Homo sapiens: one gene and its partners. The protein of the gene in region 1 purifies or fractionates together with the protein of each later gene. This does not show direct contact. Each region holds a gene or a part of one and is shown in the gene's direction. Other genes may lie near its edges. The genes, in order: MOCS2, CRYBB1 and CCDC134.

Region 1 (4,430 bases):
CCACCAGTTTGGCTGTAATATTATGGGATCATGCTTTTGTTCTCAGCCTTTTTTACACACTGCACATTGCCATCAGATGCCACTGAGGAGTCTAAGGCCACTATTGTCATTCCCTTGTTTTTATGCCTGGGTGTGAATATAGTCTTTATCCTTTATGTTTAGCAACTTTACCAGGATACACATTGGTATTCATTGCTCCTTGTCAATTTTTCCTACCAAGGACTCTCCAGCCTCACTTCTCATCACCTCCTTTGCTGGAGGCACACCTGCCTTGCCAACTACTTGCCCTTCTGTGAACTTATTATGCTTCTTCATATCCCTGTGGCTTGTCAGAGGCAAGTGAAATTTCTTCGTGCTCTACTCCCACTCTTGTCATTTACTGCCACCATTCTAGCAGATTTACCTTCTCAGCATCTTCTCACTCCCCAGGTGACACAACCACTTTCCCCTTCCACCCTTGAAATGTAACACAGATCCTTAGTATTACAGGGAATTATCATTCATATTTAAAACTCTCCTACCCAGGACTGTGAGCTCCAAGGAAAGGGACGTGTAACTTACATCCACTTAACGACGCAAGCAATTTAAAGCCAAGAGTTCTTGTTGGCAAGAATTGGGAAAGTTGGACGGACAGTATACAATTACCGAGCAGCCAATAAACAGGAAAAGTCATACAGTTCGAATGTTCTGACCAGGCGGATATTCTGTCTTTAAGAAACACTAATCATATACCTGGGAAAGAAAAAAATCTTGGGCCCCTTCAAACTGGGAATTACTCAGGGCAAATCTGCCTCCTATTCTATCCAAGTCACCTCTTTTGCTGACAAAGAATAGATGCATATTCTGATTGCCTCCTTTAGAAAGACTTATCAGAAACTCAAAAGAATGCTACTGTCTATTACCTACCTGGAAGCCCCCAGTTGGGGGGGGCGGGGCTTGCTTTTAACGGTCTCCGCCTTTCTGGAAGGAACTAATGTACTTTTTACATATTGATTGATGTCTCCTGTCTCCCCAAAATGTATAAAACCAAGCTGTGCCCTGACCACCTTGGGCACATGTCCTCAGGACTTCCTGAGGCTGTGTCACGGGCATGTCCTCAACGTTGGCAAAATAAACTTTCTAAGTTAACTGAGACCTGTCTCAAATTTTCGAGGTTCACATACCGTAGGTAAAAGTGTCAGAAGCCTAAAGGTGAGCCAGTGGAAAAGCCTGAAGACCCCTGCAAGGTTATTAGCTAAGCCTCCATAACGCAGGCGGCAAGTGTCCAGGAGTCTGGCGTCTGCTCGCCTGCACCACGACCTCCCTCCTGGGGAGAAGGACATGCATGGTAAGCCATTTCTCCATTTCCATACTGATTGCTTCCTCTCACCACCACGGCCCATCTGCGAAGCAAAACTAATCCTGGCGTGGAACAGGCCGCCTGAGGGAAACAGCTAGAGCCCGGCGCGGGGCGGAGCTGGTTGTGCGCATGCTCCGTGCAGGCGCAGGCGGGGGCTGAGCGCCGTCGGGTTACGCCTGCGCTCCGGGTGAGCCCGCGCCTGCGCCTTTGCGGCCGTGATTCGGTCCCGCTGTCCTAGGCGGGATGGTGCCGCTGTGCCAGGTAAGGGTGGCGGGTGTGCGTGCGGGCCTGGGTGCGGAGCCCTCCTCGACGTGTCTCTCCCGCCCTTTCCCTCCACATACCCAGCCTTGGTCAGTCGGACCTCCCCACTAGCCCCCAACCTGGCCGGCGTCTTGGGTTCGGGGGCGCCCCCGCCCCCGCCCCCGGGCCCTTCCTGTCTCCGGGCTTTACTGCGACTGCCCCAGCAGAAGTCGGGTCCTCTCCGAGAACTCTTGTCAGCTCACGGCAGCAAGGACGGACTCGTTCTGAAGGCGCCTCCACCTTTTATGACCACCTCTTTCCCAGATTATTCGTTTTGATGAAGCTAAAATTTTAATCTAAAAAGAAATGCACCTCATGGAGAATTCTTGTGAAGAACTGTGCTTCATCTGTGGATTTCTACACCCTTGATCATTTGCAAACCTGTAATTATTTCGTAAAGAGTTGTTTGCACGGAGTGACAGGTGCCTATTTTACTTCGTCGGATCCCTTACATACCAGGCTGCTGGCACAAGTTTGTTCTAGCAAATTCCAGTCTGTCGTGTGTTTCAAACCTACTTGCTTCTGTAAATGTCAGATTTACTATGTTGCATAACTTAATCCTTAGCGTCTGGGGACGATGTTATACAGACCGGAATCTAAGGTCATTTGACAACCGTGAGAAACAGGTTTTTCGCTTATTTATTCATTTATTTTATTTGTGTAACTCATCTCTTGACTCAAACATTTGTTCTTTGCTTACATATTTATAAAAGGTGCTATACTTTTATGTCAATTAAGGCAGGCTTAACATGTTTTCCTAGAAGATAAATACTTAGGATTTTAATGATGGCACACTTAAGTTTGTAAAACTAAAAGGCATCCAGAAATTAGTCTGAATTGTATTTAAAACAACAAGTTTTCAGAATTTGAACTTGTAGGTATACTGAAATTTTTTACGGGTTATTTAATTTTCTTTATAAAATTTGTCTTTGATTAAAGCAATACATTTGGAAAATGAGAAAACTGCTCAACATTGACAGTCAGAAAACGAGTATGAGTTGTTATTAAAAGCATTTTCTTTACTTTCAGGTTGAAGTATTGTATTTTGCAAAAAGTGCTGAAATAACAGGAGTTCGTTCAGAGACCATTTCTGTGCCTCAAGAAATAAAAGCGTTGCAGCTGTGGAAGGAGATAGAAACTCGACATCCTGGGTAGTTAAAAATTTGTAGAATGCATATGAGTAACACTTAGATATTTTCAAAATACATAAATGATAAAAGTAAAAAGGTTAATTTCGATTTCCGTGCTTAATGTCAAAAAGAATCGTTAGTTGTATTTTTTTTGGAACACCTGAAAAACTCTAAATGTGCACCGTATTTTAAGAAAGGTTAAAGATATTTTACCCCAAAACACAGTGAACCGCAGAGGGACATGATTATATTCTCTTTGATAATTTACAAAACACTGCACATGTCACTTCTGCAATTTTATAACATTAAATGAAATTGTTACAAATTCTGTTAAAAATGTGTGCTTTAAACATTTTGTTCTGCCCCTCTCTTTAGAGAGCTCAACATAGAAATTTCTAAGATTGAAAGAAAAATGAGTTACAACAAATCCTAGATGCTGCTGAATTTGAGTTTTTGTAATATTTAATTTTTTTTCTGGTTCTTGAAAAACCTATAATTTTACTTATGTCATTCCCACTTCAAGTTCTTTTTGGAACAAAATATAAAAGTGACTTATTTGAGGGTGATTCAGGAATATTAATGGTGTTACTTAGCTTGTATAGGTGTTTAACCTGGAAGTCCTAGTTCTGTGTAAAAGATACTCCATAATAAGTGTTTAAAAGCAAACCACTTCATGATTTCGTATCTTTTAAGTTGCTCTTACAGTGGCCTGATAATCAATAAAACACAGTGGGGTCTCCCATTCTGCTTTACCTGGAGGGAGACAGCAGGTCTTGTATACGTTTTCACTGTGCCTGAAAAGAAAGCTTACCATTGTTCAGGTATAAAGGAACAGCTAATAAAGCTGTGTTGCAGGTGGCTTTATGACCTATGCTATCTTTTTCATCTTTCTAAGCAACTTAATCCATATTCGAGTAGGATAATGTGTACAGGCATAGTTTGTGGGCAGTTATACTTGTGCTTGAACACATGGATAGAAGGACCCTGGAAAGGCCATGTACTGATTGGAAACTTTTCTTTTGACCTGGTTTGAGTGTTGCCTCCAGTCTGGTGGGTTTTTTGTGCATTTTTTTGTTGTTTAATTCCCCAAGGCATACAACATCCAATAAAGAGTTGACAGCAGTTTAACGTATCTTTGTGGTGTATAAGTATGTTCTTCAGTGGATATGTCCTTTCTCCATATACTATGTGTAAATTTAATTGGTAATTTTGCAGGTGATGCTTTATATAATTATATCTATGTAATATCTCTAATTGCAGCTGAAGCGATTTGAGGTCTATCATAGCGTTGATACTTTGAGTCATATTTTTTCCCCTTTAGATTGGCTGATGTTAGAAATCAGATAATATTTGCTGTTCGTCAAGAATATGTCGAGCTTGGAGATCAGCTCCTCGTGCTTCAGCCTGGAGACGAAATTGCCGTTATCCCCCCCATTAGTGGAGGATAGTGCTTTTGAGCCATCTAGGTATGTGAGATTTGTTTTTCTTAATCAGTCGTGTGGGGAAGGATCATACAGATGATAAAGTGTATGTGGTTTGCTGTTAATGTATATTCTTTGTAAGTCTGTCTGTACCAAATCTTTATTGATGCAGCAACTCTTCATTGGTGCCAACAGATTTATGAATATCTAGCACCATTTCTGCATCAAGTCTATTGTAAG
Region 2 (3,649 bases), on another chromosome or scaffold:
AGTCTGCAGTCCGGCCTGGGCGACAGAGCGAGACTCCGTCTCAAAAAAAAAAAAAAAACAAAAAAAAAAAAAACAAACTCTAGCCCATTACCGAGGGCTGAGAGAGGTCAAAGAGTGAAGTGTCCACTCGCTGTCCCCTCTCCTGGGCGTCCAGCTGCCTGGGAGTAATGATAAGCATCTGTGGCACACCCACCAGGTGCCAGGCACTGACTCGGGACCACACCTAGATGATTCACAGTGCTGTAGGAGGCAGAGGCTATTCTTATGCCCACTTGACAGATGGAAAGACTGAGGCTCAGAGGGGGTGAGTCTCTTACCCAAGGTCACCTATTGGTAAGTGGCACAGCCAGGATTCAACTCAGGTTGATTGAGTTCATTCCTAAAGCTCTTAATCACCATGCTTCACTGCCTGTTCCTGTCTCTGTGGGTGTCTCTGGGCCTTAGTGACTCCCATATAAAACAGGGATAGTCATCCTTGGGCAGAGTGGTTGCCCTATGTCCAGCCTGTGTGTGCTGAGGTCAGGGTGGAGGGGCAGCCCCAGGACAAGATCCACGCAGCTCGTTTGCTCTTGTCTCCCCCACTTTGAAAGCCTGCAAGGGTTCCAGTCATCCTGTATTCTGAGCCCATTCCGAGATGAGCTTTGAGGTCAGACAAGCCTGGGTTTGAGTCCTGACTTCCCCTGTTTGCCTTGTTCAGTGTGCAAGCCTCAGTTTCCCCATCTTTGAAATGGGGAGAAGGATGGCCCTCACCACTCCTCACAGGATTATGCTGAGGTCTGAGGGAGATCATACAGCATGGGCCTGTTACCTTGTGGGCACCCAAACATGGCAGGTGACTCTGATGGTCACGTACCCACCTCCCTGCCCGGTGAATTTAGCCAACTTATCCTGGAGGCTACCCGGGACCATTTCTACCTCCTGCACCCTCAGTGTGGTCAACGCAGCCTCAGCTCCACCCTCAGCCCCAAAACCCAGCTGGAAGCAGAAGCTACCGGATGTGGCCAGCATGGGTTTTCAGGCTTTTTTTGGTACCAGTGACTCAAACCCAGAGTATTTCTCCTCAAACAAAGATGCAGCTGGTGTCTGACGTGTGCCTTGGAGCCGTGCCTGATGGGCATGGAAACGGGCCTGTGGTCCGGGGGCCTGGGTCTGTGTGGGCGCTGGCAGGGCCATGGGAAAAAAAGAATGAAGAGGGTGAGGTAGGCATGGGGAAAGTGAGGAGGCCTGCCTGCCTGAAACCCAGGAGACTGCAGCCTGACACCCAACACCATCATGTGACCTTAGGCTGGGGACTTAACCCCTCTTAGCCTCAGTTTCCATATCTTATAAATTAAAATTCCTGCCCTACCCTCTCTCCCTGCTTGCGGGTTGAAATGAGCCATGGGAGATAAGAAAAGGCATAGATATAAACATTTAAAATTTAGATCCTCACTGGTCCTGCTGAAGAAGATAGGGGAGATTTTAGGGGGACTTGGGCATGGTGGCAAGACCACATCAGTGTCTGTTTTTCCAGAAGCCTAGACCTCCAGTTTCCTTCTCCCTTTAATCAGGAACAGTATTAATTTGGAGGCTTACTCTGTGCTGTATCTGTTCCATGCATTCCCTCTTTTAGGCCCTCATAATCTCCCAACAAGGTAGATGCAACAAAGTAGATGTATCATTTCTTCTCTGTTACTAAAGCTTAGCAGGTGTAAGTGCTGCCCAAATGCATGCAGCAAATGGCAAAGCTTGGATTAGAATTCAGGTCTGTCTGTTTCCAGGGTCTGTCCTCTTAACTCCTACATGAAACCACCTTCCAAGGCTCCCTTCTTATTCACCCATGCGTCTATCCACCCATTTATTCATCATCCATCTACTTACCCATGCATCTACCCATTCGTCTATTGATCTATCCATACATACATCCATTCTCCATTTATACACACGTACCCACCATGTGTTCTCCATCACCCACCCATCCATCTATAAATCTATCCATCTACCCACCCATCCATCTACCCATCTAGCTATCCATCAATTCAACCATCCCTTCATCCATCCCTTTATCCATGCATCCATTCATCTGTCCATCTACCCATCCACCTATCCATCTATTCAACCATCCTTTCATCCACCCATCCATCCACCCATTCATCTGTCCATCCATCCATCTATTCTCCCATTTATTTCTCTTCTACTCCAGACCAGACAGGGCTGAGGCAAATGCAACTCTATTCTGGGAAGACAAACATATCTTTAATTTACTCCAGTGTGGTTAACTCATCTCTCAGACAAAGACCTGAGGCTCCTGTGATGCATTCTGTCTCAGCCCATGGTGATAGCCCATCATCCTTGTCTCCTTCTGGGGAGAGCAGGGTCCCAGCAGCCCCCTGGGAGAAGATGCTAGTGTCAGTGTCCCCTCATCCGTCTCTTTTTTCCTAAGAACTCTTGAACACACGGGGAGCAAAGGTCAAGGAGTTCCTTAGTCTCAGCTTTCTCATCTACGGAATGGGGATTGTCTTATCTACCCCACCTGCACTGCCACAATCCCTGGTCCCTGTAACACAAGCTCACTTCTTGTCCTTAATCAATCTTCACTGGGAAAGCCAGGAAAATCTTCCATCTAATTTCAAACTTCTAATTAGTCCATGTAAGGAACCTAGCATCTTCATAAGCGCTATCACATTATATTACCATAGGTATCTGAGGGTAGATATTACCATCATTCCCTTCCCATTGCCTCATACTAGTTACTGAGTATCTCCCGAATACCAGGCCAGTATTTACCCAGCAAGGATGCAAACACCTGTATCAATTTTTCCCTTACCCCTGTACCTCCGAGACTGTCGTTCATTTAATATATTTCATTTAAAATGATCCTGCTAACCACAAATAAACACATTTTAAAAGAACCCTGACACCACTTTTTACAAATGGAAGGCTAGTATTATTTCCTATAAGTAAAAGGTATCCATACAAAATTAACAATAAACACAAAAGTGGTATTATTATGTTGCTATTACACCATTGTCTGCTGGAGGTTCTGGGCTAGTGGTCTTTTCTCTCTTTGTTACAAAAGAAAAAAAGGAGAGATTAGTAAGTGTTAAAGGCACATTAACATCAAACGAGCCTTTCTCCTAGCTGGCGTCAAGTTTCAAATGTCTATGTGTTCCTTGGCTCCAAGTCCTGATAGTACTTGAAGCATGTATGAACCTTACATCTAGAGAAACAGTGTGCTCAGATAATCACACACATTTATCTCACTTAATCCTTCACCAACTCCAAGGAAACAGGCATATGAGTGTAGATGAGAAACAAAGGCTCAGAGAGGTAAAGTCACTTGCCCATAGTCACACAGCCTGTAAGTGTCAGAGCCTAAAATCAAACCCAGACATGTTCAGCCCCCTTTGGACTTTCCTACTGTCCTCAGGGCTGCCTTGCCAGGGGAGAGAGAAAGGCAAGTAGGGAGTGGGGGCTTCTACTAACCATATGTCTCCTGTCTGCCTCATGGTCCTTCTTGTATCCAGCTGGGTCGCCTTTGAGCAGTCCAACTTCCGCGGGGAGATGTTCATCCTGGAGAAGGGCGAGTACCCTCGCTGGAACACATGGTCGAGCAGCTACCGCAGTGATCGGCTCATGTCCTTCCGGCCCATCAAAATGGTGAGTGGCT
Region 3 (3,649 bases), on another chromosome or scaffold:
AACCTCTGAGCACCAACTGGGCTTCCATCCCGCACTCCTGTACATGCTCTCATTCCAGGGGTTCCAGGGGGCTGAGGTGGGCTTTGAGAGCTGGAGACCAAGTTTGGGATAAAAGATGAGGACAGGCCGGGCACGGTGGCTCACATCTGTAATTCCAGCACTTTGGGAGGCCGAGGCGGGTGGATCACCTGAGGTCAGGAGTTCGAGACTAGCCTGGCCAATATGGTGAAACTCTGTCTTTACTAAAAATACAAAAAACTGGCCAGGCGTGGTGGTGCATGCCTGTAATCCTAGCTATTCAGGAGACTGAGGCAGGAGAATCGCTTGAACCCGGAAAGTGGAGGTTGCAGTGAGCTGAGATCGTGCCATTGCACTCCAGCCTGGGCAACATGAGTGAAACTCCGTATCAAAAAAAAAAAAGGGGGGACAGATACGATAGATGGAGGAAGGGATTGGAAGTGACAGGGCTAGGAGGGGCAGGAAGGAAGGGCTGTGGTGGCTGGAGGACTGGACTTGTCAAACCCTGGTGTCGGGAGGGGTGTTGGGTGTCTCAAGGGTCTAGGATTTAATTCTGCCTCCAGGCCAACAAGCTAGCCTGCTACTGTTTCATGGACACTGATAGGTCAGAGACATTGGACTGTATTACAGCAAAGGCACTAGCTAGACTGTTGGCCTGGTTGTGTTGGTTCATCTTGTTCCCTAACTCCCACGGAGGTGACACAGAGGGGCCAGGTGGGCGCTGTGCATGCAGGGGGTGTGCATCATAGCTGAGAACTGCCAAGCTGGAGAAATTCATGATTTTTATAGTGAACCGCAGCAAATGTGCTCTTTGGGAAGAGACATCACCACACCGTTCGAGGTTGCTCTCTGCAAACACAATCCTAAGACATGGCCCAGGTAAAGAGTGGTTAGGGCTTTGTATCTTTGGTGTGCCCTGCAAGAATATGCAGGGATGCTCAGGGCCATGATGGATTGCCACCCCAACAGTCTGCCCCAAGCCCAAGCCCTCCATGGCTTGGTTTAACTCAAATTTTCTTTTCTTTTCTTTTTTTTTTTTTTTTTTTGAGATGTAGTCTCGTTCTGTCGCCCAGGCTGGAGTACAGTGGCGCGATCTCGGCTCACTGCAAGTTCTGCCTCCTGGGTTCACGCCATTCTCCTGCCTCAGCCTCCCCAGTAGCTGGGACTACAGGCGCCCGCCACCACACCTGGCTAATTTTTTGTATTTTTAGTAGAGACGGGGTTTCACCATGTTAGCCAGGATGGTCTTGATCTCCTGACCGCGTGATCCACCCGCCTCGGCCTCCCAAAGTGCTTGGATTACAAGCGTGAGCCACCGCACCCGGCCTAACTCAAATTTTCACACGAATGTGCTATTCAGTCTGATTGATCTGACTGATAGAGGCTAGGACCAAATCTGTCAATTAGTCTCATACTTCATTTAATTAAGATTACTATCAACTATATTCTGAATAGCAGGGTAAGGCCAACCTACATTATTATTATTTTTTTTATAGACAGGGTCTTGCTCTGTCACCCAAGCTCTGTCACCCACCTAGCTTACTGTAACCTTGAACTCCTGGGCTCAAACAGACCTCCCACCTCAGCCTCCTGAGTAGCTGGGACGACAGGCCTGTGCGACACCATTCCTGGCTAATTAATTTATTATTTTTTTCAGAGACAGGTTCTTGCTGTGCTGCCTAGGGTGATCTCAAACTCCTGGGCTCAAGCCATCTTCCTGTCTCAGCCTCCCAAAGTGTTGGGATTATAGGTGTGAGTCACTGTGTCTGGCCCCTAACCTGCAATATTGAACAGGGTCCTGGACTCAACCAGCTGTGAAGGTCCTGGAGGACCAGTAAGTCTCATTTTGGATAATCAGGATATTGTCTAAGACCAATCTGTTATCCACGACCACCCACATAAGAGAGTTTAGATTGACCTGCCAATCTTTGATGTTACTGCCAATAAGTACAGGGGGCAATAGATGGACCCAAGCAACCCTCATGCCCCCATAAGGAGACATTCCATGACCCATTCTCTCCCACATGTTACGCTTGATTTGAGTCACCAGAACAATGTTTAGTTGAGCCTGAGGGCAGTGTCACTGTGGAGCTTCAGCCTCAGTTGCCTACATGGTATAATCCAAGGCTACTCAGACATCAGGAAAAGCAGATGAATTTGTATCTGTCAGGTTGAAACAAAATTGTGCTGGCTGGTGTGTCTGCACAAGGTCACTGTTGAGAACTACCTTTGATGGCATTAGACACAGCAGAATAGCTCAGTACTGACGTGTCCATGTGAGTTTTCCTATCATGTGGATGGAAATGAGACACCCAACAGTTGGCCATATTGACAGCTGCAGCTGCCACTGGGCTTGGGCAGACCCTAGGATTGTTTTGCCAGGTGGCAGTGATGGATCTAAGGGATAAAGAGAACATTAATTGTTCCCTGCACTTTCTGGGATCTAAGGTATATCCTCCCCAGGTGGCAGGATTATTGCTATAAAATCCATGTGTCCTTGGGAGACCGAGGTGGGCGGATCATGAGGTCAGGAAAATCAAGACTATCCTGGCCAACATGGTGAAACCCCGTCTCTACTAAAAATACAAAAATTATCCGGGTGTGGTGGCGCATGCCTGGAGTCCTGGCTACTCAGGAGGCTGAGGCAGGAGAATTGCTTGAACCCAGGAGGCGGAGACTGCAGTGAGCCAAGATCGCACCACTGCACTCCAGCCTGGCGACTGAGTGAGACTGTCTCACAAAAACAAAACAAAACAAAAAGCATATGTCCTATGCCAGCATCTATAGTTTCACTTTTTCTCCAGTTGTTGCCTACTATCACTTAGATCTTTCATTCAGAAATGTCAGGTATGAATGGGACCAGGGCATTTTTACAGATGTATAGAGACCTGTTATATCTCTTCTCTTTACCCACATGGGCCACTGCAGGGAAATCAGCAAGCAGGATACTCAGCCAAGTGGTCACAATCCTAACAATCTCAGGCTGTACCATTCCAACCAGAGACTCAGGTAGTTGAACCAGAAATATACAGTCCTCTGTTTTGTGCCACTCCTTGGTAGTGGGTATGTTACCATGCCAAGTAGAATGATATGTTTAGGTGGCAGTGGCAGTGATCTGGATGAAGTAGGCTTGATCAGCAGTTTGACTCCATTTGGTCTTTTCAGAGATTGAGCTTTATGATGGGCATCTAAACGAGTGAGCCAGGCTGTCTAGTTTGTCACCACAATTTGTTTCCATAGTCTGTGGCCCTAAAGAGGGGTGAGGGGTAGGTATCGCCAGGCATGGTGGCTCACACCTGTAATCCCAGCACTTAGGGACCGAGGCAGGCGGATTGCCTGAGGTCAGAAATTTGAGACCATCCTGGCCAACATGGTGAAACCCTGTCTCTACTAAAAATACAAAAATTAGCCGGGCGAGGTGACGCATGCCTGTAGTCCCAGCTACTCGGGAGGCTGAGGCAGGAGAATCGCTTGAACCCGGGAGGCAGAGGTTGCAGTGAGGTGAGATTGCACCACTGCACTCCAGCCTGGGCAACAGAGCAAGACTCTGTCTTAAATAAATAAATAAATAAATAAATAAATAAATAAATAAAAAGAGAGGGGTAGGTATCTTTGATCTGCCAGTTTGTAA

Evidence for each region.
Region 2: the proteins of MOCS2 (region 1) and CRYBB1 purify together in Homo sapiens (affinity purification with mass spectrometry; one large-scale study listed by BioGRID and IntAct). This does not show direct contact.
Region 3: the proteins of MOCS2 (region 1) and CCDC134 fractionate together in Homo sapiens (co-fractionation; one large-scale study listed by BioGRID). This does not show direct contact.

Annotation. Positions count from the first base shown.
Region 1 is NC_000005.10:53,106,882-53,111,311, reverse strand, and holds the start of MOCS2 (molybdopterin synthase catalytic subunit large subunit MOCS2B), read left to right. Parts: upstream 1-1,554; 5' UTR 1,555-1,582; coding exon of another isoform or gene 1,583-1,600; 5' UTR 1,601-2,061; intron 2,062-2,668; coding exon of another isoform or gene 2,669-2,790; intron 2,791-4,090; coding exon of another isoform or gene 4,091-4,137; coding exon 4,138-4,235; intron 4,236-4,430. UniProt on the Homo sapiens protein: Catalytic subunit of the molybdopterin synthase complex, a complex that catalyzes the conversion of precursor Z into molybdopterin.
Region 2 is NC_000022.11:26,607,879-26,611,527, reverse strand, and holds part of CRYBB1 (beta-crystallin B1), read left to right. Parts: intron 1-3,465; coding exon of another isoform or gene 3,466-3,468; exon of another isoform or gene 3,469-3,506; coding exon 3,507-3,639; exon of another isoform or gene 3,640-3,649. Other genes in the region: CRYBA4 (beta-crystallin A4), read right to left, coding at 3,466-3,468. UniProt on the Homo sapiens protein: Crystallins are the dominant structural components of the vertebrate eye lens.
Region 3 is NC_000022.11:41,814,160-41,817,808, forward strand, and holds part of CCDC134 (coiled-coil domain-containing protein 134 isoform 1 precursor), read left to right. Parts: intron 1-3,649. UniProt on the Homo sapiens protein: Molecular adapter required to prevent protein hyperglycosylation of HSP90B1: during translation, associates with nascent HSP90B1 and the STT3A catalytic component of the OST-A complex and tethers them to a specialized translocon that forms a microenvironment for HSP90B1 folding.